Linked DNA regions of Homo sapiens. The protein of the gene in region 7 interacts with the protein of the main gene of each other region in a pairwise test. Each region holds a gene or a part of one and is shown on either strand. Other genes may lie near its edges. The genes, in order: NKAIN4, SYNDIG1, AMHR2, GSG1L, JAML, CXADR and MAL.

The links.
Region 1: the proteins of MAL (region 7) and NKAIN4 interact in binary tests that used the Homo sapiens proteins (3 or more experiments, as listed by UniProt).
Region 2: the proteins of MAL (region 7) and SYNDIG1 interact in binary tests that used the Homo sapiens proteins (3 or more experiments, as listed by UniProt).
Region 3: the proteins of MAL (region 7) and AMHR2 interact in binary tests that used the Homo sapiens proteins (3 or more experiments, as listed by UniProt).
Region 4: the proteins of MAL (region 7) and GSG1L interact in binary tests that used the Homo sapiens proteins (3 or more experiments, as listed by UniProt).
Region 5: the proteins of MAL (region 7) and JAML interact in binary tests that used the Homo sapiens proteins (3 or more experiments, as listed by UniProt).
Region 6: the proteins of MAL (region 7) and CXADR interact in binary tests that used the Homo sapiens proteins (3 or more experiments, as listed by UniProt).

The regions. Positions count from the first base shown.
Region 1 is NC_000020.11:63,244,271-63,248,672, forward strand, and holds part of NKAIN4 (sodium/potassium-transporting ATPase subunit beta-1-interacting protein 4), read right to left. Parts: exon of another isoform or gene 3,506-4,402; coding exon 3,308-3,505; exon of another isoform or gene 2,586-3,307; intron 2,489-2,585; exon of another isoform or gene 1,614-2,488; coding exon of another isoform or gene 537-1,613; exon of another isoform or gene 1-536. Other genes in the region: uncharacterized protein LOC124904950, read left to right, coding at 537-1,613.
Region 2 is NC_000020.11:24,587,829-24,592,230, reverse strand, and holds part of SYNDIG1 (synapse differentiation-inducing gene protein 1), read right to left. Parts: intron 1-4,402. UniProt on the Homo sapiens protein: May regulate AMPA receptor content at nascent synapses, and have a role in postsynaptic development and maturation.
Region 3 is NC_000012.12:53,429,514-53,433,074, reverse strand, and holds the end of AMHR2 (anti-Muellerian hormone type-2 receptor isoform 1 precursor), read right to left. Parts: coding exon 3,450-3,561; coding exon of another isoform or gene 3,430-3,449; intron 3,245-3,429; coding exon 3,097-3,244; intron 2,930-3,096; coding exon 2,793-2,929; intron 1,899-2,792; coding exon 1,602-1,898; 3' UTR 1,403-1,601; downstream 1-1,402. UniProt on the Homo sapiens protein: On ligand binding, forms a receptor complex consisting of two type II and two type I transmembrane serine/threonine kinases.
Region 4 is NC_000016.10:27,822,397-27,826,798, forward strand, and holds part of GSG1L (germ cell-specific gene 1-like protein), read right to left. Parts: intron 1,520-4,402; coding exon of another isoform or gene 1,466-1,519; intron 1-1,465. UniProt on the Homo sapiens protein: As a component of the inner core of AMPAR complex, modifies AMPA receptor (AMPAR) gating.
Region 5 is NC_000011.10:118,200,772-118,205,173, forward strand, and holds part of JAML (junctional adhesion molecule-like isoform 1 precursor), read right to left. Parts: intron 2,895-4,402; coding exon 2,657-2,894; intron 1-2,656. UniProt on the Homo sapiens protein: Transmembrane protein of the plasma membrane of leukocytes that control their migration and activation through interaction with CXADR, a plasma membrane receptor found on adjacent epithelial and endothelial cells.
Region 6 is NC_000021.9:17,567,525-17,571,205, reverse strand, and holds the end of CXADR (coxsackievirus and adenovirus receptor isoform 1 precursor), read right to left. Parts: 3' UTR 1,106-3,681; downstream 1-1,105. UniProt on the Homo sapiens protein: Component of the epithelial apical junction complex that may function as a homophilic cell adhesion molecule and is essential for tight junction integrity.
Region 7 is NC_000002.12:95,031,639-95,036,040, reverse strand, and holds part of MAL (myelin and lymphocyte protein), read right to left. Parts: intron 1-4,402. UniProt on the Homo sapiens protein: May be involved in vesicular trafficking from the Golgi apparatus to the cell membrane. Plays a role in the maintenance of the myelin sheath, and in axon-glia and glia-glia interactions.

The DNA.
Region 1 (4,402 bases), on a different chromosome or scaffold from region 7:
TCCGGACGCACCCCTGCCTTCCACCCCACCCCACTCAACTGGGTAGGGGGCAGGTGGGTGAGGATAATGGATATTGGGTGGGGAAGATGAGCAGGTCAGCCTGAGTGGCTGCAGGGAGCGGGGTGAGGACACAGAAGCCCAGGCTGGATGAACCCCAGGCCAGCACAGTCCCAGCCCTGCGTCCCCTCGGGCCTCTTGCCTTTGGCCCCAGCCCACTCCAGCCAGCAGCCACCAGGGGTTCCTCCTCCTCTGTGGAGCAAGCCATCTGGGATTCTGGTTTTGAGCCCGGCAAAGTGCAGGAGAGACAGGCTGAGGACTCGGGGTCCAGCGGGCAACTCCGGGCAGAGTTGGGGGCTGGCTGCTGCCTTTGGGGCAGGGGTCAGGCAGGGAGAGGGGAGGGACTGGGAGTCCAGGGCAGAGGGCAGGCCGCTGCAAAGCCCCACACACCTCGCAGACACCTGCATCCAGGGCCACTGAGGGAAAAAGGGCTCTGGCAAAGGGGGGGCAGTGCTGCCGCAGCCAGAAACACCAACAGCATGAGCGAGAGGGCCTGGCCAGGGGCACTCCAGGCCACAGACACCGAGGGAGGCGGCAGTGGGTCTGTGACTGGAGGGACCCCGGAACGAGGCAGGAAACCTTCCTGGTTGCACCTCAGGCCAACCACTCAGCAGCCGGGTGACCCCAAAAATTCACTTCATCTTCTGGTCTTGGTTTCTTCCTCCATAGACTTGGCCCAACAGCCCCCCGTGAAGGCCACCGTGCCCAGGAGAGGAGACAGGACACGCAGGCCAGGCCCCAGGGCTGGACATGCTTGGGCTCCGTCCCCCCGACCCCCGACCCCATCTGGTACAGGCAAGTTGGTGGTTGCTTTCCTGGAAATCCAGCTCCTTTCTAGGGGTCAGTCAGGGGCCAGGAGACCTCTCTTACCACCAAGCAGGCAGACCTATCTCCTTGATATTGAGACAAGCTCAAGAAGCTGTCCCAAATGGCCATTTCTGGTTCCATGCCACGGCCAGGGTGGGAGCAGCGGTGAGGGTGGGCAACCTCCACGGCTCGTCCCCCTCCTCACCCCAAAGGAGCCCAAGACGCCCCCATCCCGGAGCTGGCCGTGGCGCCGAACAGGCAGCCGAGCTTGGGGAGCCATTGGAAGATGCCCCTTCCAGCCGGTGCCCTCCTGCCTGGGGACCTGCAGGCCACCTCTGTCCCACACCCCCATGCTCCCCGCCCTGCACACCACCGCCTCCTGCCCATCCTCCTGGCTCCAGCCCCAGGTCCACCCCAAAGCTCTCCCCTCTCCCTGCTGCATGGAGGCCTGGGATCTGCAGGCCCCGCACCCCAACCCCCAGAGCCTGGCCTTGTCAGACGACTCTCTTGCCACCACCATTTCCATCCCCAGCACAGCTGGGCAGAGGCCAACCAAGCCGCCAGCCTCTCCCAGACCCTCCAAAGCAAACAGCAGGGGCGAGATCCTAGCGAGGACTAGCTGGCTGGAATTTAGAAACTACATCCTATCAAAGAAATTCCCATCCCTGGGAGTCAGGATAAAAGCCAACAGGAGGCCCCATCTCCCCAACCATGCAGAGTGCCCACTCCTCCAGCCTCGGCTCCCATAGCACGCCAGCCCCCTCCGAGAGACTCTTCATTCATTCCCCTCAAGCTTCCTTTTTTTTTTTTTGAGACAGAGTCTCGCTCTGTCACCCAGGCTGGAGTGCAGTGGCGTGATCTCTGCTCACTGCAAGCTCTGCCTCCCGGGTTCATGCCATTCTCCTGCTTCAGCCTCCCGAGGAGCTGGGACTACAGGCGCCCGCCACCACGCCCGGCTAATTGTTTTGTATTTTTAGTAGAGACAGGGTTTCACCGTGTTAGCCAGGATGGTCTCAGTCTCCTGACCTCGTGATCCGCCTGCCTCGGCCTCCCAAAGTGCTGGGATTACAGGTGTGAGCCACCGCACCCAGCCTAGCTTCTTTTCTGTTGCCTCCTCACAAAGCCTAATCTCAGGAGCTTTGATGTGCACACTTGGGAAATTGGCTCTTTCTCCTCCAGTGGCAGGCACCTGGGTTCCACACATTTTGGGGGCAATTGGGGCCCCCTCTGTGCCTTGCTGACTGGCTTTGGTGGGAGAAACAGGCCCCGACTGGAGCTGGCAGGGTGCGTCTGTGGCCCCTTGCTATGGGGCAGCACCTTCCTGGCCTGATTTCCTGCAGGACCAGAGCAGAGCCCAGGAAGGAGCCCCGGGAGCTCACGAGGCCACCCGCACCGTCACGTGTGCTCAGGCCACGGGCTCCTTAGATTTGGAATTCAGCTCCCACCGCCAGCCGCCGGCCATGGAGCCTCGCTCCTGGAAGCCCCAGGTCCACCTGGTGTGTTGCGTCGACACCACCGTGCGCACCAGGAAAAGCCAGGGAGCCTCGAGATCGGTCAGAAGTTCCTCCAGCGACGGCACCAGCCGTGCTGCAGTCACATTGGCCCTGCCCCCGGAGCTCTTGAGGTGAAACGCTGACCGAGCACCCTCCACACACCCGCCTCAGCTTTTGCCTCTTTCTGAGCACTTCGAGGAAGGCACTGACACCATCTGCATTTTACAGAGGCGGGAGCTGAGGCACACGGAGGTTGTTAGGCTCACAGAGGCGGCACAGCGGGGAAGTGGCCGTGTGGCCATACCAGGAGCAGCATCGTAGCCCCTGTTCTCTACCAACCCGTGCAGGGCCGGAGAGGACGGCAGAGTCCCGTTCCCGCACAAGCAACAGCTGCTCCTCAGCGCCACCCGGGGCCACAGAATCCCTGTCCGGTCAGACCTGGGTCACGTGGCGCCAGCCTTGCCAGATGCATACGCCAGGGTTCCCGACAAGGCTGAGGGGCTTCTTGCCAGCCCAGCCTCAGGCTCTGTCCACTTCCTGTGACCGGCATGGGCTCGGGGCAGCCGAGGGAACAGGCGGGACACGCATGGATGGGTTTGTCAGGAAGATGCATGCCCCTCCTCCTTGGGGCCGTCAAAGCCAGAGGCGGGGTGTCTCGGCCTGATCCGATTCCTTCCCACTCCCCACAGCAAACACCACGCTCAACTTGAGAAAGCGCCTGGGTTGGCCCCGCCTGGGGGAGGTGGTTTGCAGAGGAGGCACTGAGGTGCCAGCCACATGGGACCCACCCGTGATACCTTAACCTCTCCAGCAAGGGTGGGGGATGAGGAAGGCAGAGACACGCCTGAGGCCAGGTCAGCTGGCCCCGCCTCAGGGAGATGAGCCCCCAGCTCCATGTCCCCTCCCCCATCAACCCATCCCCACCCGGGGGCCCCCTTCCCCACGCTCACCGCGATCAGGATCTGCAGGCAACTGTGTAGGGCCTCCACATAGCTGGGCTCCAGGGCACAGCCAGCACCTGACACCAGGGCCTGGCCATGGGGGGCCCCGAGGCCCACTGCTGGCACCTCCTCATGCAGACAGCCTGGCCAGCGCTCACGCCACCAGGAGCGATGCCGGGAGAGGCTGAAGGTCAGTAGCTCGCTGTCCTAGGGGAGAGGTGCAGGAGCAGGGCCGGTTAGCACCAGGAGGTGGGCGGCCTCACCCACTGCAGCCTGCGGGGACGCCACCACACCGAGGCAAGGGGAGGTCCTGTCCTCTCACCTCCCCTGTCCTCCCACTGCACCCCGCCCCCAGGGCTCCAGCCATGGTGGGGAAAGGAATACCAAGGCCCTCCCAGCCGCTCCTGCGCCTGCCCTCGACCCACACACCTCCTCCTCCAGGAAGGCCTCCCTGCCCAGACCCCAGAACTCGCTCTCAGGGGCACCGGGCCCCTTCCTCGTGTCGCTGGCCAAAGCTGCCATGTGACGTGTGTCTGCCTCGGGACAGTCTTCCCGGCTGCAGCCCCAGGTGTGGTTCCAGGAAGCGGGGGCCCGTCTGCCTGGCTGGGCACCTGCCCCAGTGCCCACCTGTGCTACACTGGCCAGAGCAGAGAGCCCCTGGGGGAGACCAAAATCCATCCACCCTGGCTTTAGGACCACCCTCTGAGCTGTAAGCAAAGTGCCTGAAACAGCCTCGGTCAGGGTGGGCTCAGCAATGGCCCCCACCCTGTTTCCCCTGAACAGCCTCGGTCAGGGTCGGCTCAGCGATGGCCTTTTCCCACCCCCTCCCCCCACGTTTCCCCTGGTTCCCTGCATTGCAGGAGGCACGAGGCTTTACCAGCCTGGAGGGTTGGTCGGGCTGGGACAAAGGACCCCACGTGGCCCCAGGAGGGTGGTGTCCATTCACCTGCAGATCTCTGCCAGGGTTTGCCCCTGCTCTGAGGCCCCTCTTCCCCAGCTGGAGCCCCCTCGCCTGCCAATACCCACAGACGCCTTTCTTTCACCAATCAAATCACTGGTCTTTCCCCAAACCTTTACTGAGTTACCAACTACAGACCAGGGCTG
Region 2 (4,402 bases), on a different chromosome or scaffold from region 7:
CAAAATTGTTCCCTCCACCTTTGCAGAATTTGCAGAGCATCTTATTCAGAGGAGAAAGAACAGCCTGTACTTGACTTATACTTCTACTCTGCTACAGAACATTAAATTCAGGAGAAATAATAAATACCTTTAGTATATATCATTACCCAAGATAGCTTGGTTCTCTCCCATAATTAAATATGATCCAGTTTTAATGGAGTCAGAGAGAGAAGGACAGACTTATCCCTGGGAGCTGCAAGCAGGGCTGCTATTTAACTGAAAACAAGAGGCAAGGATATCAGACTTCTATAGTTCTTCCCTATGTGGGTATTTGTAATGTGAAAAGCAAGACTATGATTTCCTCTAACACTTGGGCAGTATTTGGTGGAATCTGTCACTAAGTGACATAATCACTGACCACTGACCCAGAAGTGGGCATTGATGGTGGGGGCACCGAATCCTGGCTCTACCCTTGGAAGCATGACCTGGGAACAGCTACATGACTCTCGCAGCCTAATACCTCATCTGCATCTGCCCCAAGAAGTGTGTGATGTCAACTATGTGCGAGGTGCTTGGGGGCTTTTTATTGCTCCCCTAACTGTCCCCCCATTCTCCTTCCCACTGTATTTCACAACATCTATTTTTCTCTCTTTTGGGTCATTTTCATTATGAACAAGTATGCTATCATTTCTCCCACTTAAAAGCAAAAACAAAAAACAAAAGAACACTCTTGACATGACCTCATTAAATAGCATCCCATTTCTCACTCTCCATTTACAGCAAAACTCTTCAAAAAAAAAAAGATAACTAGATGTACTATGTTCAGCTACTCTCTTTGCACTTCCATATGTATATTTAAAGACAAGGTCCCATTCTGTCACTCAGGCCTGGGTGCAGTGGTGGGATCATAGATCACAGCAGCCTTGAACTCCTGGGCTCAAGTGATCTTCCTGCCTCAGCCTCATGACTAGCTGTGACCACAGGCATGAGCCACCACGCTCAGCTAATTTTTTTTTTTAAAATTTTTGTATACATGGGGTCTGTTGCACAGGCTGGCTTCAAGCAGTTCTTCTCCCTAGGCCTCCCAAATACGTGCATTTTCTAAATGTTTTAATTGAAGTATAGTATTCTTACAGAAAAGTGCACACACACACACACACACACACACACACGAAGGTGTAAATAAAGCTCAATGAGTTTCCACAAGCATACAGCCAGTACCCAGGTCAGGAAAGAGAATGTCCCCAGCACCCACAAGTCCCTCCGCGCCCCTCTGCTGTGCCTGCTGATCCAAGTCCCAGCAGTGCAGCTCTGCATCGCTGGATGGTTCCCTTCCTCTTGCTCTGGAGTCCGCTCCTCGGTGCTGTCCCTCCCTGCATGCCTGAAGCTGCTCATCAGCGGTCAATGCTCCCACGGGCCCCTCATCACCGCGCCGGTGCTTGATCCCCAGCTCAGGCCTTACACTCCTACCCTCGGCCCAGACGTCTCCCTGGAGCCCCCATGGTTCAGTGCCTCCACGCAGAGGCCGACAGCTCCTGGAGTTGAGAGGCCCCGCTGCAGGTGCTGCCTATCCGGCTGCAGGAAACCCCTGGTCCAGGGCATCCCTCCCTTCCCTCTTCCTTTCACACTGCAACCTAAGCCCAGGGGTCATTCACCCAGAAGACACCCCGCAGCTCCCCACTGCTTATGAAATTCCCAGCCACTCCTGCAGCACAGGACTCCACGGTTCTGCGTTTGACCACTGCCGTCGTCGCCCTGCGCCTCCCCCTCCGCCCTGTTCTCTGAAGGCTCCCGGGAGCATGTGGCCACAGGGGCTTCTCCTCCGCTCAAACCCCCGAGGCTTCTTATCCCAAAGTGGAAGCCCCGCTCGGTCACAGCCTAAAGAGTCTCGGGGTCTGCCCCTGTTGGCCCCGCCTTGTTAGTTACCCCTACCCCCATTCCCCACTCCACACCCGCGGCCCCCAGCCCCGCCGCGCCGGCCCCACCTGCCCCACGTGCTCCCCCCAGGGCCTCGGCACTGCAGGCCTCTCTGTCTGGAAGCTCCTCCCCAAGGGCTCCCCCTGGCTCAACTGGCGGCTTTATCAGAAGACACCATCCTCTCCGCGAGCCCCGCCACGGCCACCCTGTTAAAAACGTTTCTCCCAGTTCCACGCTCCCCATGTCCATCCGCAGCTAATAGCCAGTGAGTAAAACGGAGAAAAGTAAAGCTGACATTGCAAGGAAGAGAGGCAGGCGACGAGCACGTTAGCTCTGACAAGCGGGATTTGGTTTGCTCTGTTCACTGCTGCATGCCTGGCACTTACTGAACACGTGGGAGGTGTTCACTAATCAGTGGGTAAATGAATGGATTCCAAGGGGCTTTGCTATTAGCTAGGTTGCACTCTTCTAGATTTTCAGTACCATAAAAAGATTCTCTTTTTTCCCCTAGTTTGCCCAATTCCCTTTGCTGGTACTATTCATAAAATTCATAATCTGCTTCCTAATACCCTTTTCTCATTTAATTATTGTTATAATGTTGCAGTTAGTAAAGGAAAGAAACATTTTATGAAATGAAATTAGATCAAGACATAATAAATGCTTGGATGCAAAGACATCTGCCAGCACAGTCAACACAGGAACCCTCGGGCCTGCCCGGCGCAGGTCCAGGCCCAATGCCCACCTTGGGGGCAGGGATCTGGCTTTGGTCCCCGGCTGCCCCCATCACATGGGATGGAGTGAAGTGCCATGAAGACCAATGCCACACCATGCTCAGACAGGCTTTCCTCCCCTGCAAGCCTTTCCAAGCAGGGTGGGGGGATGGTGAATTTAGAAGCAAGGACTGTGGTTCTATTTTCATTTGCAAACAGATAAAAGTCAAAGCTACATTGCAGAAAATATGGCTTTAAGGGTTAGAAATATTAATATTTCCCTCATGTGCCCATACTTGCTACCTCTGTGATTTCTGTTACTTATTAAATCCCTTGAAACTTCAGTTTTGTTAATCTGTAAAATGGAGATAATAATTTTCCACCTTCTGGACTCACTGCAAAGATTAAATAAGATAAAGTGTGTGCATTAACTAGCTGACAGCAGCCACTCAGCCAATTATGGGATTCATGTCTATCCTCAGTATCATTCACAAATGTCAGTTCCTAGATGAAGCCACACCACCCTAATCGCACACACCCACATCCTCCTCTGTATGAACTGGTTTACAAAGCGTGCTTGCAATGGGGGCTGGATGGAACATTGTTGGGCAAAATGAAGTTGTAGACAACATGCTGCCCTCATCTGCCCACCCACCCCCACCCCACAGCTCAGGGACAAGCCAGATGCCTCCCCCAGAGAAGGCAGGTGCTTCCGAACCTGCACATCCTGCTAGCTCCAGCCTACTGCTCACCAATGTTGGCTTTAGGCACATCTCTCAATCTCACTGAACCCTGATTTCAGCACCCATGTCATGGAGTTCCTATGAGATAATGCATGTAAGACAGCAATATTCACAACCGAGCAACATCAGAACCCAGGGCATCCCTCCCTTCCCTCTTCCTTTCACACCACAACCAAAGCCCAGGGGTCATTTCTTCCAAAAGACATCCCGCAGCTTCCCACTTCTTATTAGATTCCCAGCCGAGACTGCAGCACAGGTCACCACGGCCCCTCCCGGGTGATGGCAGCAGCATCCATGAGGAGCTGGAGGCCTCCTCAAAATGCAGATTCCTGGGCTTTGCCCCAGAGACTCTGACTGAGCAGGTGTGTGGTGGACCAGACAGTGTGCATTTCTAGCAAGTGCCTAGGGGGTCCAGGACCACATCCTGGAAGCAAGGGTGCATGGCTCCAGCGCTGAACCTGGCGCACAGTAGGTGGTCAGCCAATGTTACCCACCTCACTAACACTTTGATTACTACTGTTATGCTACTTCATGAACATATTTTTAGAATTAGCAAAATCTGCTGGGAAAGGTGTGTCTGTGTCTTTCCAGGTGTTCCTTGGCCTCTGGACCCCCAGCACCTGGAGAACTCAGGTTTCCAGCAGGGCACGACCAGCAGCAGCTGCTCTGCAGGTGCCTCCTGGGAACTTTCACTGGCCTTCATCTCTAACCCTCAGCTAACCGCACACCCTGGAAATCATTTTAACATCACTGTATGGGTCAGGAAACAGAGGCATGGGAGAGCTGCCTGCTAAATGGGACCAGGCTACAACAGGACAAAACAACATACTGGAGGTGCATAATTCTAGAGATGGCATCCCTCATTTTCTCCACTGCCCAATTTAATCAGACCACCATAAGATGTTGTTTTGTTTTTCTGTAATGGCTTGGCATGTTCCTTTGACTTCACTGAACAGTTATTTTGACAATGAGCAGACACAGCCTGACTGTCAGTGAGTACACTGTGATATGATCTGAGATAAAAGGGAAAAAAAACCCAAAGTCACACTTAGA
Region 3 (3,561 bases), on a different chromosome or scaffold from region 7:
CCAGGACAGCGTACAGGAACCCAACAATGTGGTGTGCAGGTCTTTAAGCACTGTTAGGGCAGTGATTTTGTTGTCTTTACCCTTCTTTCCCCAGTGCCCACCATGAGATCCCACCTTTAAAAATAAATGTTGAGGCTGGGTGTGGTGTCTCATACTTGTAATCCCAGCACTTTGGGAGTCCTAGGCAGGTGGATCGCTTGAGCCCAGGAGTTCAAGACCAGCCTGGGCAACATGGAAAAACCTTGTCTCTATGAAAAAATACAAAAATTAGCCAGGTGTGGTGGCACACATCTGTAGTCCCAGCTACTTGGGAGGCTGAGCTGGGAGGATCGCTTGAGCCCAGGAGGTCAAGGATGCTGTGAGCTATGATCACAGCCTGAGTAACAGAACAAGAGCTTATCTCAAAAATAAAAATAAAAATAATCAACAATTTACTTTGGGAGGCTGAAGCGGACAGATCACAAGGTCAGGAGATCAAGACCATCCTGGCTAACATGGTGAAACCCCATCTCTACTAAAAATACAAAAAAATTAGCTGGGCGTGGTGGCGGGCGCCTGTAGTCCCAGCTACTTAGGAGGCTGAGGCAGGAGAATGGCATGAACCTAGGAGGCGGAGCTTGCAGTGAGCCAAGATCGTGCCACTGCACTCTAGCCTGGGCGACAGAGCAAGACCCCCGTCTCTAAATAAATAAATAAATAAAATTTAAAAAATAATAAACAATTTAAAATGCTGGGTGCAGTGGTTCATGCCTGTAATCCCAGAACTTTGGGACACTGAGGAAGGAGGACTGCTTGAGCTCAGGAGTTTGAGACCAGCCTGGGCAACATACCAAGACTTCACCTGTACAAAAAATAAAAAATCAGGTGGGGCGCGGTGGCTCATGCCTGTAATCCCAGCACTTTGGGAGGCCGAGGTGGGCAGATCACAAGGTCAGGAGATGGAGACCATCCTGGCTAACAGGGTGAAACCCCGTCTCTACTAAAAATAAAAAAAATTAGCCGGGTGTGGTGGTGGGCGCCTGTAGTCCCAGCTGCTCGGGAGGCTGAGGCAGGAGAATGGCGTGAACCCGGGAGGCGGAGCTTGCACCGAGCCGAGACTGTGCCACTGCACTCCAGCCTGGGTGACAGAGTGAGACTCTGTCTCAAAAAAAAAAAAAATAGCTGGGTATCGTGGTCCATGCCTGTGGTCCCTCCTACTCAGGAGGCTGAGGCAGGAGGATCACAAGAGCCCAGGGAGGACAAGGCTGCAGTGAGCCGTGATCGTGTCATTGCACTCCAGACTGGACAGAGACTCTGTCTCCAAAAAAAGAAACCAGATAAATAAATAAAAATAAATGTTAGTGGAAAAGAAGAGAGACAAGAGGGTCCCTGGATTACAGGAATAGAGGAAGGACCAAGGATATGCATCAGGAAAGCTGACTTTATTCTCTTTCCTGTGCACACCTACCCCAAGTCACTGGTCAGAACTGATGTGGACTGGATGCCCGCAGAAGAATCCAAGGATTCGGCAGGTGGGAAATGCAGTGATGAGGCAGACAAGACAGCTATACAATCGCCATATTTATGTTGGCATGTACATTGATGACACATAAACTGCATATTTACACAGGAGAAAGGGTACAGGCAGGCTGAGGATTCCTGGAACAAGGGCCTTGCTGAACGCTGAAGTGGCAGGCACTCCGCTGAGGCCTACAGGGGAGGATGGTAGGGGCAGGAATTGAAGTACAGTCTTCTGGGCAGAGAGGTGGGCAGCCACGTGGACAGCTCTCTGGAAAGGGGTGGCTCTCTTGAGGATGGGCCAAGGCAGCCAGGCGCTGCTGTACACACTCAGCTGTCAGCCGTGCTTCTGGGTCTGCATCCCAACAGTCTTCTAGGAGCTCCCTCAGCCCATCAGGGTCCTGGGGGGAATGACAGGGAGGAAGGGTTGACCCTAGGATCTTGAGTGGGCCCCAGGGTTAAAAGCCATCTTCAGTGTCCATCACTCTCCTGCTTTCAACATCCACTTCTGATCTTTCCTGGAGCCTCCCTCCTCTCCCTCTTGCTGAATTCCAGCCCTCTGAGTCTTGCTCCCTATGAAACAGGCTCTCTGGGGGCCTTCTGTATAGCCCACTGTTTCCTCTGAGGAGCTAATGTAGGTTGACAGCTTAATATGCTAATGGGAAATTACTCTCTTTCCTCTCAGAGAGCCAGAGTCTTCTGCAAGTAATGCCCAGTTTCTGTCAGCCAACCTAAGACTTGTGCCGTGGAAATTTCAGATCAGGTACAGAAGGGACATTTTGTTAAAAAAGTATTTGTGCAAAGCCCTGAACTTTCACTGTGACGCCACTGCTTTCACCTTTTATACCTAGAACTGCCTTTTATTGGGTCACAGCAGAAACATCATCAATGTATGACAGAATGGGGACTTATTGAATTGATTTTTGGGCTTTACTGTATTAGGAGAGCAGATGGGGCAGAGCTCAGGGCAAGAGCAAAGCCAAGGAGGGCTTCCTGGAGAAGGGGACTGAGGAACAGGGCTAACTGATGGCAGAGAGGAGAGACAGGCTGGGCAAGGTTGAGCAGGAGGAAGGTGTGTGTCTCAGGTAGATGGAATCGACTGTGTGAGACTTAGGGTGGAAGAGGATGAACTGACGGGGAGAGGAGGCTTGCCCAGTTCCAGCTGAGCATGAACCAAGGAGTGATGGGAGATAAGTGGAGATAGGAGTAGACAGACACTCTGGCAGAGACGTCCTTGAAGCCCATGCCCAGCCCCCACTCTCCAGGTTCCCAGACCAACAGCCTAGGCCTCTTACTGTGGCAAAGCAGCGCCAGGTGGATGGGATGTAGGGACGCCTCCTCTCCTGCACTGCCAAGGCCCATAGCTCATCAGAGGTAGGGGTATTGCCCAGTTCTGCCTCATAGGCCAGTTGGAAGGGTGGTGGACTGCTGTCTGGAGGAAGGTAGAGGGGCTGGGTATCAGTTAGTCCTAGGGGTGCCTACCATGTAGAAAGGGCAAGACAGGGAAGAGCAGAGCTTTCTCAGGCCAGGTCAGGTTGGGGTGAACCTAGAATGGGCGGGGGGGAGCCCAGGAGAGGGGACTGTACCACCCATCCTTACCAGGCCTCAAATCTGGGCAGCGGCTCAGTATCTCCCACAGGAGCAGAGCCAAAGAGTAAATATCAGCTCGTCGGAGGGCCATGCCCCAATCCTGTAGGTCCAGAGTCTTGTCCAAGAGCTCTGGTGCCATGTACCTCTGGGTGCCAGCCTGGAGAGCAAGGCACGAAGGGCCAAGAATCATCTCTGTGGCAATCCTCATTGCAGCAATGGTCCATGCAATATCCCCCCAACTACAGACTCAGCAATGTCCCAAATGCTATAGGTATTGCTACAACTGTTGACACACAATGGCTGCATTGCCATCAGCAGCACCAACATCATCCTGGGCCTCACCAGTTATCCAGAGAACTCACTTCCATGATGGCAGCTGGGCCTTGTGGTTGAGTAGGGGTCCAGGCAGGGGGCTGAGTGAGGCCAGGGAGCACCAAGGCAAGGCCCAGGTCTCCAATGGCACACGATCCATCT
Region 4 (4,402 bases), on a different chromosome or scaffold from region 7:
AATAGAATTAATGTTTTTTTGGTTTGGTTTGGTTTTTCAAGACAGGTTCTTGTTCCGTAGCCCAGGTGGGAGAGCAGCGGCGCCATCATAGCTCGCTGAAGCCTTGATCCCCCGGACTCAAGTGATCCTCCCACCTCAGCCTCCCTGAGTAACTGGGACCACAGGCACATGCCACCACACCCAGCTAATCTTTTAATTTTTTTGTAGAGACAGGGTCTTGCTATGTTGCCCAGGCTAGTCTCGAGCTCCTAGACTTAAGTGATCTGCCTGCATCAGCCTCCCAAGTGCTAGGACTACAGGCGTGAGCCACCGAGCCTGGCCTAATATTGTTAATAATTAATACCGTAATTGATTGGGCCTCTGTGGTTCTAGGTGCAGGGACAGAGTGGTAACCAGGAAAAGCAGGCTCCCTGCTCTCGTGGAGTGTGCACCGAAATGGGCCAGACATAAACACGAAAATAAATAAACAAGTAATTTCAGAGAGTCCTAAGTGGTACAGAGAGAGGTGCAGGGGTCCCAGGAAGGAAGATCTGCCCTCCCAAAAAGCTCCGGGGGCTTCCGTCCCCCACACAGTGCCACATTCCCAAGTGAGGCGGGTCATTTGTTTGGCACAGCTGAATTCCCTCTGGGATCCAATCCAACAGGTCTGATTTTCTTCCACACATTGTTAAACCAGATCTGAGCATTAAGTATTCAAGAAAGCCCCAATCTGCAAATATTTACCTTTCATTCAGCAGCATCTGACCCTCCCCTTGGGAGGCCCGATTAAGACGAAGGAGGGGACGACAGGCAGGGTGACGCTGGGAGGGTTTAATTCCAGATGTTTCTCAGGGGTGGGGCAGGAATTGGGGGGTGCAGGCCCTCCAATCCAGCAAACCCAACACATGTGCATACTGGTCCTTCCACATGACCATGTGCACATGCATACGCACACGCACACAGACGCGCACACACACACATAATACGCCTTTCTTCGACAGCGCTGAACACCATTTCAAATCTGCCCAACTGCTCCTCAGCCATGCAGTCGGCTCTTGCAGAGGGTAATCCAACAGGACATGGGTGGTGGGGGTAGGGGTGGGAAAGGGACAGTTTAATTTCTTCCTGTCCATCAGCCCCCGCAGGGCACTACCTTGTCGCTGGTCTCCAGGAGGACAGCAGGAAAGACTCGGATGAAATGGGCTCCAGAAAGCCCTCTCCCACAGATAGGAAACGTGGGGGCGTGAGGGAGCCCATGAGCTCTGTCCCACAGAATGCATCATACCAGAAACCCACTCACGGTCTGTCTCTCACCTCACCTGCCCCTCCTGCGATGAACTCCTCAGCCATGGGACTCCCTTTACTCTCATTGTGTGCCCAGGTCCTAGCTCAATACCCAGCAGAGATAATTGATCAAGCCTGAGAGGCCACACAGCACAGGGAAGGACTATGTGGCCTGGGCTTAAATCCCAGCTCTGGCACTTACCAGCTGTGTGACCTGGGGCAAGTCGCCCTCCCTCTCTGTGCCTCGATTTGCCACCTGTAAAATGGAGGTGACAATAACACTTACACATAGAAAGGCATCGCAGAAATTAACTGAGTCACATCTGAGGTATTTAGAGGAGAGCCTTATACAGGGCCACAGATAATAACGAGATTATCAGCCATGCTTCGAAATACCCTCGCCATCTCCATCCTAAGCTGGTCATGACCAAGCTCATGCTTCACTCTGGGGTCTGGTGAGGGCATTAGGAGCAGAAGGGACAGGAACTCACACACAAAAAGCCCTCCATGTGCCAGGCACTTGGCGCGGCATGTCACATGGGTTTTCAAATTTGAGCCTCCCTGAGACACCAAGAGCTCTGGATTCTCCCATCCTGGGTCACAGGAAACAGGCTCAAAGGGGCTCAGCGCCTCACCCCAAATTACATAGCAGCAAAGAGATAGATTTGGAAAACTCACTCCAAACCCCTGCTCTTTCCACAGCACCCTCTGTCCCCCGTGGAGGAGAAGGAAACCTGGGCAGGTGGGGCCATGGATCGCCCTCCCTTGAGTTCCTGGCTGCGGCTCCAAGGATGCTGGCCACTGTAAGATGTCAGCCCTGCATCTGAGCCATCCTGCAAACCTATGCAGACATCTATGTGCTCTGAGCTCTTTGTAGGGAAAGCACAAAAAAAAAAAGAAAAAAGGAAAAGAAATAGAACAGCCTGGCTAAGCTGAAATGCTCTCCTCAGAGGGGAAGGGAAATAAAATTTGATGAACCTCTGCATAATGTTCAAGTTATGAATGTGTAAAGTGATATTCTGCACATATGCTGGGAAGAATTCATCTTGGGGCTGAGCTGTTAGGAGCCATTGGAACTGGGGCACCAGCAAACAGCAGCTTCTTGTTGATGGGGTACGGAGAGGTCTTGTCTTCTGCCTCAGCAAAATGAGGTGTGTTTTACCCACAGATGCCCAAGGAGGTGAATCTCCGTAGCAGGGGTGGCAACTGACCGCAGTGCTAATGGGGCAGCTTTGGACATCTGGCTGCTTATGTGTCTATTGCAAACACTTGCTGAGTGCCCACTTCGGGCCCTGTGCCATGCTGGGCATTGCCACCATCCACAGCCTGGGACGAGATGAGCCGCATGCCAGGTTAGCCGGATCTTCCTGGCCACTGCTGCCTGGCCCGAGATTGAACACCTGACCTACACCGAGCAATCACATCCTCTCTCCTGGGGCTTTGGCATGGAAGTGCTGGGGCACTGAATCAGCGAGATGATGGTGGAGATGGAAATAAAAGAGCATGAGGGAGCCAGGGCTGAGGCCTCCAAAGACAAGAGTCTAGTCAATCACCAGAAAACCCTGAATGAGCTCCTAGTAGGTGCCTGGCCCAATTCTAGGCTCCTGGTCCACAGTGGGAAACAAGACGGCATAGGTCTTCTATCCCAGAGCTCACAGTCTGCAAACTGGCAAACAAATAAAGAAAATCCTGGCAGGTTGTATCAGGTGCTATGAAAAAATAGAAATGGTGCCAGGCATACTGGCTCATGCCTGTAATCCCAGCATTTTGGGAGGCTGAGGTCAGAGGATTGCTTGCGGCTAGGAGTTTGAAGCCATCTGGGACAACCAATAGCAAGGCCCCCATCTTTACTAAAAATGAAAAAATTAGCCAGTCATGGTGGCACATGTTACTTGGGAGGCCAAGGAGGGAGGACCACTTAAGCCCAGGAGGTCGAGGCTGCAGTGAGCTGTGCTTGTGTCACTGTACTCAGTCTGGGTGACTGATATGGTTTAGCTGTGTCCACCCAAATCTCATCTTGAATTGGAGTTCCCATAATCCTCATCTGTCATTGGAGGGATCCAGTGGGAGGTAATTGAATCATGGGGACAGTACCCCTAATAATGTCCTCATGATAGGGAGTTCTCATGAGATCTAATGGCTTTATAAGGGGCTTTTCTCCACTTTGCTCGGCATTTCTCCTTGCTGCCGCCATGTGAAGAAGGACGTGTTTGCTTCCCCTTCTGCCATACTTCTAAGTTTCCTGAGGCCTCCCCAGCCCTTCTGAACTGTGAGTCAATTAAACCTCTTTCTTTGATAAATTACCCAGTCTCAGTTGTGTCTTTATTAGCAGCATGAGAACCGACTAATACAGCAACAGAGTGAGACCCTGTCTCCAAAACATAAAAAATAGCAATGGGTTAGAGTGTCTAGGATAAGGTTGTGGGGAGTGTGTGTTTAGACCCAGTGATTAGGAGAGGCCTCACGGAAGCATCCCGTGGCACAGTAAGTAGAAAGGTCCCAAGGTGGGGACGCACTTGGAGTGCCTGAGGGATGGAAAGGAGGCTGATGTGGCTGGGGAAAGACACAGTGGCAGGCTGAGAGAGGGGCCTGTTACAGTCAGGGTACCTGTGTGGGTCTCCTCACCCCATGCGCTGCCATGCTTCTCTTCTGACTGAAACCCTCCCAAGGGCCCCACAGACAGTCCAGCTCCTCATTGCTGCCCCACCCTGCAGCCTCCTGTCCCCTTCCTCGTCCTCGTCCTCTGCTGAGCCCTGAGGATGTGCAGTGATGCCTTCCTGCCACTGAAAGGTGTTAATGCCCATCTCCTTCAGCTCCCCCAGAAGTAGGCCCTGTGATAAGGATTTGGGTAAAGGTAGTTTTCTTGAGGGGAGGCGGTCCCAGGAACTATGGGTAGGGAAGAAGGGAAGTGCGACAGGGAAGGGACGGAGCCAGCAGAGGATGTGATAAAGGCTGATCCCTGCTAAGGGCACCTGGAGACCAGTCCCATGGCAGAGCGTGCCCCAGGCCGTTTTGCACCCAAGGGTGGGAAGGTGGGTCTTCATCCACCAACACCCACCAACTCCTGACAGTATCAGTCTCCTGGGCATTCCAGTAAGCCCCACGTGTTGGGCAAAGCAGATTCTGGGGTCAAAGAGGG
Region 5 (4,402 bases), on a different chromosome or scaffold from region 7:
TTGAGAACCAAAGTCTAACCCCCTCGTTTACCCTAAAATGTAGATTAAGGTGGGTGGGAGAAGAGGCTAGCAGTTCACCTCTAGTAAAGTTTCCTTTCACATCAACAATTCTATTCTAAAATTTGGCTTAACAAGGACCCAGAAATAACAGGCATTTGAGAGGCTGCTGATCTTCCTTAGGGCAAGTGGTTGTCTTCAAAAGAACTCATGCCGCAAGACTCAGCCCCACAGTGACGATACCAAGTAAAGCCTCCGGAGGTACTTCTGCCCATATGGAACCTTCTACTCATCTGCATGGTTCTTTCTAAATACATAAAGCAAACACCTCCTCAGGGCCAGACAGCACTAGGTACAGGGGATTCAGAGATGAATGATGATGTGTGGTCCCTGCTTCCAAGGAAGAAGACAAACACGTCAACAGAAAACCACAGGCTGCTGTAGGCGCTACAACAGAAGTCTGTATGGGGAACAGAGGGGCACAGAAAAAAGGGTGTCCAATTCTATATGCAGCAAGTGAGAATTTGCCAGCAAAAGTTCTAAAGTTTAACCTAAGACTTACAGGAAACATCCAGTTTGTTGGGAAGACAATATGGAGAAGGACAGAGGGGATGTTCTGCATGAGATCTGGAGGCCTGACAGGATGATGATTTTAGAAACTAGAAAGAGTTCAACGGGTCTGGCACAAAAGTGGCATTTGTGGGTGTGCTGGAGAATTTCGCTGGAGAGATGACAGGGTCCAAGTCAGGAAGGACCTTGACTATCTCAACCAAGAATCTGGCATTTTTCTGCAGGCAATGAAAACAACATTGAAAGATTATTAGCAGTGGAAGAGAAAGTTCTTAATGTGATTTAGAAAGATGGCACCAAGAGCCGCGTGAAGAATGAGGAGCAGTGGCTGAGAGAGAAAGCAGAGACTGGTTAGAGGCCTACAGTTCAAGACAGAGATGAAGACAGCCAGAACTAAGGCGGCAGTGACAGACTGGAAGGAAGACAACTTCAAGAGTCTGTAGTAGGAGTCAAGGACTTGTTGACCTGACCTGTTAGATTAGGGGTCTAGGAAAGGGAAAGAATCAAGCACACCCCCAGGCATCTAGTTAGACAACTGAGGTTGGGGAGATGGGCTGAGGAGGGGTGTGCAGGGGTAGGTTAGACATGTTGCATATGAAGGATTTGTGGAAAACTTGTGTAGAGTTGACTAAGTATATCCATGGGTGTGTGTGGAACTGTGTCCAACATAGAGTGCATATAAATGCTACTGAAGGAGAGAAGGCTGAGGATGGATAATTGCAGTGCCATTGGTGATCTAAGCTGGAGTAGAGGTAGAATAAGCCAGAATGCAGTGCACTGAGGAGTTAATGGGAGATGAGACAGTAAGATACCAAACACAGACCTTTAGCAAGCTATTTGGCTATGTTGAGAAAGAAACACGTGATTGTGGTGGTGGTTGTTCAACTCTGAATGTACTAAAACCATTGAGCTGAACGCTTTAAATGGGCAAATTGTATGGTATGTGAATTGTATCTCAGGAAAACAATCTTAAGAAAAAGAAAGACACAGAATGGAGCTGAAGAAAAAAAGACATAGAATGGAGCTGGAGTAATTAAGTAGTAGAATTGAGCAAACGTATCCATTGAATGGTAGAAACCAACAGAAAGTGAGCTCAAAGAGCCATGTTGTAAGGTTCCTGAGAAGGATACCACCTGGGCACAGGGGGCCAGATAAGCCCAGAGCAGAAGGGACCTTCCTCTGCCTCAGGATGGCAGGGCAGAGATAAGAATGGGGGAGACATAGATATGTTTGTGGGTGGAGAAGCTGCATGAGCCCCCATAATGGCTCGATTTTCTCTGTGAATTGGACTTCTGAGAAGGAAGCACACAGACCTGCCGTGCTCCCCTCTCCAGCTGGAGACAAGGTGCCTCCACAGACTTAGGTCTCTGGCCTGAGGTATGAGGTATGTTCCATCCTCACCCCATCTTCCCCACCCCCAGCCAACCACAGCCAACTCCTGAAGGCCCTAGCGACAGGCAAAGTCCACAGGCCACATCCTGATTGCTAACTGGGTTATGGTTTAACTTTAACCCCTCACTTATCAACCTCTCTCTGTCAACACAATCAAGTCTTTCCTCTCCTACACAGCACTGGCCTTGATGCACACTGTTTGCCAGAATCCAGAACCTCTGATCAGAAAACCCTCCATTTTTGGTTCTGGTGCCTGCATGTTCCTCTCTGTTCCTGGCTGTCTCTCACTAGCTTAGGATCATTTCCCGCTCCACTCTAACACATACAGCACCTCCCTTGAAACCAAGTATGCTGACTTTGGACATCAACTCCGATCCTTCCCTGAGCTTCTGTATCTTTACATCAGTAGATGACCCTGGCAATGAGTGGGGTCTGGCAGAGGATTGGTATTCACTAAATTAGCTCCCCTCCCCTTGGCCTAGCAGCAGGGCCAGAACTAGGGTGAGGCAAGCCAGGCACCTGAGGAGCCACCTCTAAGGAGGCATCATTCTCAGGGTTGTGCAAGGCCAGAGTCAGCACCTGAGAGGGATGCCTCCTTCAATTTTGCATCCTAGGAACCTCTCCGGCCTCACTCTAGTCCTGGCGCCATGCACCAGCCAGGAGGTCCCTCAATGCTCCCCAGCCAAATGTTAGATACTTCGAGGCTCTTCCGGGCTGACATGCAGCACAATGGTTTTCTTGAACACCAGGTTCCCTAGGTGGATACTGCAGGTGTAGTTTCCTCCATCTGACTCCCTCACTCCTTGAAGCATGATGGAACCGTCATTGCGGAAAATGTCCCCCACCAGGTTCACACGATTCTGGAAGTGGCCCCAGCTCTGGGAGTACTCCACAGACATCCTGAGTTTGTGGTAGTAACGAAATACAATCTCCTCCTAGAAGTGAAAGACAAAAAGTATGATATTGTGAGGACTGGAGTGGAGCGGGGAGCAGAGAAAATGGGGGAGGGAAGATCTCAGGACTCCAAGGCCCTGCTAGGTGAAGGCAGTAAGGGTATTATCAGAAAGCATTAAATAACACAAAGTCATGTACACACACATGTGCATGCGTGTGTACTTGTGAAGGACATCACAAAACCATGAACAGTTTTTCCATCTGAATGGAGGGATAAGAAAAGGAGGACTTTCATTTTGTGCACCTTTCCAATAAAAAAAAAGCAAAAGTATACTTTTATTCTTGATGACATTTCTAGTTGGATTTCCAATAGGAACCTGAAACATGTCTAAAACTGAACTCTTCATCTTTCCCCCAAACCAGTTCTTTCCAGTCCATCCCATTTTGGTACATGGCAATGCTTTCCTCCAGATACTCAGGCTAAAAATCCTGGAGTCATCCTTAATTTCTGTCTTTCTGGAACAAATCACATTGAATCCCTCAGCAAATCCTATCACCTCTACCTTCAAAATATATCCCCAATCCAGCCAGTCCTCACCTCCTCCACTGATACCATTCTGGTCCAGCTCATCTCTCACCTAGATTCCTGCAACAGCTTTCTTACTTGTCTCCCTGCTTATTCTCTATGACAATCTATTTTCAGCAGATGAGCCTTTAAAAATGTAAGTTAAATCATGTTACTCCTGTGCTCAAAACCCTTCATGGCCCCCACTCCCATTTCTACTAAAATGCAAGGCCCTGCATGACCCAGCCCATCTCCCTTTACCTCTGACTTCAACTTCTACTTGCTCTTCCCTCACCTACTTGGGTCACTGCGCTCCAGCCACATGGACCTCTTGGCTGCTCCTTGCATACTGGCTGCAAGGCCTTTGCACTTGCTACTGTCTATGACTGCAAGAACACTCTTCCCCCTACACATATGCAGGGTTCACTCCCTCTCCTCAAATGTCATCTCAGTGAGGGCTCCCCAAGCACCCACATAACAAAAACCACAAAGTCCTGCTTTATTGTTCCCCGTAGGCTCTTACTATTGCCTGATGTATTATATACGTCTTTATTATTTTACATGTATCTCCTCCATCTTGGTTGTAAGTTTCCCATCAGGACTGGGGCTTTAAGTATTCTTCATATAGCAGATTCTTTAAAAATAACTTGTTAAATGAATATTGGCATTAAAAAAAGCCATGTAGATTGCTTTTTTAAAGCTTTTAAGAAAAGTTAATGGGTGTGTAGACACAAACATGAATGAAGTGACCTGGCCCCTAACATTTTGTCTCTCGTGATTCAAATTCACAACCTCAAAATGTCAATTCTCATCCTATTTTCTCCTGTGAATCACTCAATGGATGACATTTAAATGTATGGCAAGCTCTCAGAGGTGAACCTGGGACCAGATGTAATTCCCCATACTCCATCATGATGTCACCCACTGTGACCCACTCAGATAGCATAGAGGAATCAAGTGCAAATGACTTTGTTAGAGAGATGA
Region 6 (3,681 bases), on a different chromosome or scaffold from region 7:
GTGGTATTTAAACATGCCTGACTCTAAGCCCTGTGCTCTTCACCTTTTAATCGCCGAGTAGAAAATTTCACATCAGTATAAATCCGTGGTTCTCAAAAGGAGGCGATTTGGCTCCGACCCCAGGGGAGATATTTGGTAATGTTTGGAAATACTTTTTATTGTCACAACTGTGGTGGGGATGCTGTGGTGGCGGGGACCAGGGTGCTACTGATATCCAGCGGGTGGAAGCCAGGGGTGCTGCCAAACATTTCGCAATGCACAGGACAGTCCCCTACGACAAAGAATTATCCAGCCCAAAATGTTAATAGTGCTGGTTGAGAAACCCTAGTATAAACACAATATTCCTCAACATGCTTCTTAAAGTAGCATCAACATCCCATTCTGGTTTTTCCTGAAATCAACATTTACAGTGAATGAAAATACTTTAAGCCATAACGAGATGTTACTTTGGTTCGAATATCTGTGCCTCCCTAAAATTCTCATGTTGATATACATTTTATTAGCCAGAAGCCCAAATCTCACCATTATGCTGAAATCTTAATACTCAACGTGATAGCACTCAGATGTGGGGCCCCTCTGGGAAGTGATCAAGTCAGGAGGACTCCACTCTCATGAATAGCATTAATGGCCTTATGAAAGAGGCTAGAGGAAGCTCCCTTTCCTCCTTTCTGTCATGTGAGAATACAGCAAGAGGCCCCATCTTTGAAACAGAAGGTAAGCTCTCACCAGACACCAAATCTGCCAGTGCCTTGATCTTTGACTTCCCATCCTCATATCTGTGTATATATACACACATTGGGCAATGTATCTGAAAAATGTTTGAGTTTATACTGTAAATTCTGAAATGATCACAGAACGTTGGAGGTTTCAACCCCAAATAGTATATACTGTTATATAAGCACACAGGAATGGGGAGATAATGGTCTGTATGCTTGACATGTTTTCAATGATGTATTAATATGATTGTCGCAATCTTTATTCTTTCTGTTTAGAGGATACACGGGGGGAAGGAAACCATGACACAGCAAGCAGGGAGGAATAAAATATTAAAGCTTTAGTGGACACTGTATAAAAGGCACAATAAAGCCACACCATGAGGCAGAGAACTGCTTTCTTGATTTTATTTCAAAAGTACACAAGGTCACAAAACTAGAGCAAGTTGTTTTTCTTAACAAATTTTGTTCTTACAAATTTCAAAATCTGCACCATTGGATATATAAGCCAGAAATCGTACATACAAAATCTGAAACTGACACTGTCAGTTCTATACTTTGCACACGTGAAGTGTCAGAATATTTTCCTCAGTAGTACAGGTGTATTTATCACTAAAATTCACAATTAGGGAAAAGAATAAGTGAATCAATGAATTGTGGTTCTCTTAAAACTTGTGTCATTAAATAAGTTAGCAGAAAACACAAAGTTCTGTTTTGATGGAGCTTTTAGTCTCGATGACCAAAACCAAACCCAACTGATATGTACTATATTCTTAAATTATAAAATAAGATAAATTATAAAAGTTAACCATAATGAATAAGAGGCTGGGGTTATCTGCTATAAGATAAATGATCAGCCTTCCCTAAAGATAAATAAACTGAACCACAATTCACAAATGTGTTTATTATTCTTCCCTGCTTCTATAACATTTATAAAAGGAATTTGTGCTCAGTTGTGGTCTATTTTAGTGTTAAAATAGGTAAATGAGTAAGAAATCCTATTGCAGAACATGATGCCTTTATTGCTGGAATATCCAAAGGCATTCAAAATATTAAAACTTGCCCAGAACATTTACACTACTAAACACAGGAATGTTATAAAGATATATGTACATATATATATATAATATATAATGTCACAAGCCACTAAGAAGTTAAAATTGTGCCAACATTTTCTACAAACTACTCTTTATGTGACACATCAAAGCATTAACCACATAAAATATGAACTTTTTCTGTTCACACTGGAATAAGGCATCTGAAAGCCCTAAACACTGCTGAAGTGAAAATTAGAAGAAAAAACTCAACATTCACATAACATCAAATGTACATGCTGCACGCACACAAAAGACACTGAGAATATTTTTAAGAAGCCACACATCACAGAATTTGATAGTCAACTTCATGCAATGAGTTCCTTTTATATTTCATCAAAAGGTTTACTTGCCCCTTTACTTGTTCCAAATTTCCAAGATTAACTCTTAAATTTGAAAAAGTATCTTTTTAATAAAAATCAGGTATCTCTTTATATCCATGATCTATATGGATAGTGATTTGGATTTTTTCAATCAAACTCTCCCTAAGATACACTCAGGCTGTGTTTCCATTTTAGAAAGTCCATGGCAGATAGCTCAAATTAAAAAGAAGCAATTTGTCCAGAATAATTGGTTACTGTCATGAATAGTAGACATTTTTGGGGGTGGGGGAGTGAGAGGCTCTCTAACAAGGGAATCATATTAGTTAAGATTACCAGTAAGAAAAAAAAATAGCTGTAAACTACTCCATATTCAAAGTACAGAACTGGCTGGATGCTGCGGCTCACACCTGTAATCCCAGCAATTTGGGAGGCCAAGGCAGGAGGATCTCCTGAGCCCAGCAGTTTGAGACCAGCCTGAGCAATAGTGAAACCCTATCTCTTAAAAAAAAAAAAAAAAAGTACAGAACTATATATTCTACAGTAACATTTCTCTTCAAATTATCCTCTGTAACCTAAAGAGATGGATGGTATCAAGTCTCTCAGTTATAAAGTAGAATAAAATGGCTTTGCTGTTAAGATGCAGTACTGGGCCGGGTGCAGTGGTTCACGCCTGTAATCCCAGCACTTTGGGAGGCCGAGGCAGGCAGATCACGAGGTCAGGAGATCGAGACCATCCTGGCTAACACGGTGAAACCCTGTCTCTACTAAAATTACAAAAACTTAGCCGAGCGTGGTGATGGGAGCCTGTAGTCCCAGCTGCTCGGGAGGCTGAGGCAGGAGAATGGCGTGAACCTGGGAGGCGGAGCTTGCAGTGAGCCGAGATCCCGCCACTGCACTCCAGCCTGGGTGACAGACCGAGACTCCGTCTTAAAAAAAAAAAAAAAAAAAAAGATGCAGTACTGTCCTTGACTGATCTAACGGAAATGCTTTAGTAATTTTTTGTTCAACTACTTGATTACCAGTAGTAATTCGGGAGCAAATATTTGATCTCTGGTTCAACTAAATTATCAGTGAGAACTACTTGAAAACGTATTGGTACTATTTGGCTGACAGAATTTTACAGTGAGACATAAGCCTTTAAAACAATGTCCTCTAAAATATGAAGTATATGGGAAGAGAAGTCTTGTTCCTCATATGTTATTAAAAAAAAAAAGGAAGGAAAGTCTTATACGTGTCCACTTTCTATGATAACTTCTACTTAGATCAATAGGATAATTTTCATTATATGAAAGTCAGGAATAGGAAGAACCAAAACTTTATTATTAATGTTCTGTTTATTTACTTATTTTTTATAATATTTTATAAATAAACTTTATTCATATAAAACAGGCCAAACATCTGACTTTCAAAAATGGCTACTGTTATAAAATCAGAAACATAGAGTGTTGGGAATATTGAAATTTCTAAACCTTTATGAATAACACAATTGCTTAAGTTATATCCACAAAGAACAGAAAAGAGGCAAGCTTGAAAATGTGAGGATAGAAAGGT
Region 7 (4,402 bases):
AGGACTCAGCGGGTTTGGATCAGTTTGTGAAGAAGGGGATAGAGATTTGGGATTAAAAGATCGAAGAGCTGTTGCTGGGCACGGTGGCTCACGCCTGTAATCCCAGCACTTGGGGAGGCTGAGGTGAGCGGATCACGAGGTCAGGAGATTGAGACTATCCTGGCTAACACGGTGAAACCCCGTCTCTACTAAAAATACAAAAAATTAGCCGGGTGTGGTGGTGGGCGCCTGTAGTCCCAGCTACTCAGGAGGCTGAGGCAGGAGAATGGCGTGAGCCCAGGAGGCAGAGGTTGCAGTGAGCCGAGATCATGCCACTGCACTCCAGCCTGGGCGACAGAGCAAGACTCTGTCTCAAAAAAAAAAAAAAAAAAAATCTAAGAGCTGAGTGGAGGGCCATAGTTTATATTAACAAGGCAAGTTGGACTGGGAAGAGCCCCCTGTTCAGGCTTGCAATCTCACCCCCCTTGAGCCCCAGGGAAGCCTCTCCCATAGCACACGCTGCCAGCAGGACAAAGTGACTGCTGACTTAACACCCACCTCCCTCATGAGCTAGAGGATGGTCACTAGTTCCTGAATGCACAAAAACTCCTCTCAGATCCACAAATCTAGGGGCTTTCTGATAGGCATGTCTTCATTTGAATGGAAAATTCTGCCTACCACATCTACACCTGCTGGCCTTACCCAGCAGGATAAACAGAAACCAAGAGGTTCTGTGAAAATACTGGGTAAGCCACCTGTAAAAGGCAAAATCCGTGGAAATGCTGGACCAGACAGGAGTGGCTTAAATGCAAGAAAAACAAAAGGGATTTATGGGAGTCACCAGGTAGGTTAGTAATGTGAACAAACCAACAAAACAGGTGTACACCTGCCAGAGGCGACAGAAGGCTGCCCGCCCAGGGTCTGGGAGGGTCCAAGGGAGATGGAACTCCCAGAGTCTCTTGGGGACTGGCAGCCTTTGTCAGTTTCACCCTCTGTCCGCCTTTGAGGTCAAGGACTCATCTTATGATTCATCAGTGTTAGGTAGGTGAGAGAGGAGACCCGAGCCCCTTCCCTACCGATGCTTGCTGAGAACAAATGTTTCAGAGTTCTTGATCTGTGCCAGGGATGTGGGCAGACTTAGGGTGTAGGCACGAGACAGACAATAAGCAAAGGTCTGCAGGATGTGCTCTGAGTGCCAGGAAAGGGTGCTAGAAGGGTGGGCTTCCCGGTGGAGGGGATGGGTTAGCTCGGGCCTAAAGGGTCACCTCCAACAAAGAAGCATTCCCACTGCTGCCCCCAACCTGACCACAGATGGAGATGAAGGAGGTCTGTGGCTGGTTTTAGAAATAGTCCTGAGACCCATAAGCTCGGCGGTTCCTTTCCTGCCAGGCCCCTCAATCCAACTATGCCCTCCTGCCAAGCAGCTGGGGGCCAGGATGGAGGCTGGGGGAGGTGAGGGCACAGGTTTTTGCCAGAGGCTGCCCCCTCCCTGAACTGATGCCCTTGCATACAGCCGACACACTGACACTGATGACAAATCGCTTTTGAAAGCTTTAATCTGAGCCTGCTGATAATTCATTCCTACGCCTGCGGGCAGATGTAGCTATGTGTCACACTCAGAATCCACAAAGCTCTGCCTGCCCATCTTGGCACCAGGCTGGCAGGGTGATGCAGAGAGGCTTAGAAAGCAGCCTGCTCCCTGGGCAGAAGGCAGGCTGGGGCTGCCACACTGTCCTCCACCCCTTGGCTGCTCCATCAAGCTCTTAGCTGAGGACACACTGACCTCTGCCCTCAGTTGTTCCTTCTTGGTGAGAGGAGAGCCACTGGGAAGGCCCCAGGAAGGTGGTGTCTGTGCAGGACTCGGTGACTCCAGGGAAAAGTCAAGTGTGCCCTCCACAGCCTGGCCCAATCCCAATCCTCATGCAGCACCTGCCTGAGAATGGAACAGAGGGCACCTATGGCAAAGGTGATGGGGGCGGGCCTTGCGGACCCTGCCATCGGCACAGGTCGGCCAGTTGGTTTCAGAGCAGATGCTTAAATTATTAGTCAACTAATAATAACAGCACTTGATAGCTATGGGGCAGTAGCTATGTGAGGCAGGTGCTGCTATGTCCAAATTTTACTGATGCAGAAACTGAGGCACAGTTACCTGCCCACGTTCCCACAGCTGCCGGGTGCTCCTTTGATGAGCTGGCTGAGGCCCAGATCCAGGCCCCCATGGGTGTGACAGTTACCTCTTGTGTCTAGGGTCAGCTTTGGAAATGGCCATGAGATTTTTGTTTTGATGACAGGTTCTCACTCTGTCACCCACACTGGAGGGCAGTGATGCGATCACAGCTCACTACAGCCTTGACCTCCAGGCTCAAGCAATCCTCCCATCCCAGCCTCCTGAGTAGCTGGGACTATGGGTGCAAGCCATCATAGTTGGCTAATTGTTTACATTTTTTGTAGAAATGGGGTCTTGCTATGTTGCCCAGGCTGATCTCAAACTCCTGACCTCAAGTGATCCTCTCACCTTGACCTCCCAGAGTGCCAGGATTACAGGCGCGTTAACATGGAGCCTCCTCCATGTTAACTAAGTGGCGAATAACCACTTAGTCTTTAGGCCACTCCCAGCCGGCTTCTCCCTCCCTGGCCCGCCACTGAAACAATGAGTCTCAATATCCTCTGTTTCTTCAGAGGAAAACAATAGCAAGGTTTGTGTTTAAGACACATACAGCACAAGATGAAATGCCAAAGGATCCCGCTCCCTCTTCGGCAGATGCAGGCCTGTAGTTCAGTCTGAAGAAGAGGGAGGGGCTGCCATGCAGACCCCACCCGCCCCACTCCACTGACAGGTCAGGGAACGTCATCTTCTGTCCTTCCCCGTGGCCCTATTCCTGGAGTGCCCACCTCCCGGGCCCCCCGTGGGCCTCCCTCCAAGTTGGTTCTGGGACCTTCACTTTCTGTCTCCTCCCCCTGCCCTTCCAGCCCCTCCCCTCCCAGCCCACTGCATTCTCACAGGGACTGGAGGCTGTGGCCAGGAACTGCAGGTCAGTGAGGCTGGCTGTGCGACCCTGCACCTTCTCTTCCCGCTGCGGAGGTGCTGTGGCTGGTGACAGGCTTTCCTTTGATTTCCTACATATGTTTTGCAGGACCCAGGGCCCGGGTACATTAAAATGATTCACCCAATCCTGGCATAGAACACTAGCTGTGAATGAGGTAGCAGCGGCAGAGAGCCTGGGGAGAAGTGCTGCAGAGAAGCAGAGTGTGGCACGTTCATGACCCCAAGAAGGGAAATGGCTACACTGCTCATGCCCAGCTAGGAGCTCACTGGGTATCAAACCTTTCACCAGGGTGTCAAAGGCAATTTGGAGCCTTCCAAATTGATGAGAGACCACGAGGGACCTGCTCCATGCTCCATGCCCTTGGGAACAATCTGAAAGCTGTGAGAAGGAGCTGGCCACACACCCCAGAACGTTCCTGCTTCAAGGACAAGGGGCACAGTCCCCCACTGTCCTCACACCCATCAACACCAGGAGGGTACACCCTCTGGGGTGTCCTATCAGCACCTGTCCCTGAGGCCTGCTGGTCCAAAGCACCATGTCCGGCACTGACACTGGAGGGGCCAGGAGGAAGCCCTGGAGTGGCTTAAGTCAGCCCCCAGCCCCTTCTAGTTCAAGTCTGGCTGGCTCTGTCCTGTGTCAAGGCAGGTCCCAGGTGGTCCAGTCCCTACTCCCAGCCCCTTCTCTGGAGAATGTGTCTGGGCCCAGGACAAAGCCAAGCCACTGCTAAGGCTGTGCAGAGCTAGTCTGTGCTGGCAGCACAATATGCTCTGCCCCTCGCCTGCTGGTGTGGCGAGTATAGGTGCAAAATTCAGCCCTTGTCCCTGGCCGACCTGAGTGTGAGCGCTGCTGGCAGCAGCATCGTGGGGCTTCCTACTCACTTCTGAAAGCACTGGGACAGAAAGGGTGCCTTTGCACCAGTTCTGGCATTGCCCCATCCCTGTGAGGTGGGGGAGTGACTTATGAAAAGCTAAAAGGCAATCTTTTAAAATATAGCTCAGGTGTGATGACACATGTCTGACAATCCTGTGGAGATGAGCCCCATCATCACACTTAGCAGTTTCCAGGGAGCAGCTCAAAGTTACTGAGTCCTCACCAAAGCCAGCCTCTGGTCTTGAAAAACCAGAAAAGTCACTTCTCCACCAAACCCCTGTGAAATCTCTGTCTAGAACACTTCTCCTCCCTTTAGAGAGGAAGAGAGGAGAAAACACGGAAGATCAGGCAGTAGCCCTCTCTAAATAGCTACAGAGAAGGGACAGAGCCAGGAGCCAGTGGACACAGTCAGAGAAGGCCAACTCAGCCACCATCCCATTCTGGCCAAGCGGGGCCTGCCCCACTCCCTGGTGCCTGTAGGAGAGGCTCCTAGCTAGCACAGCAGG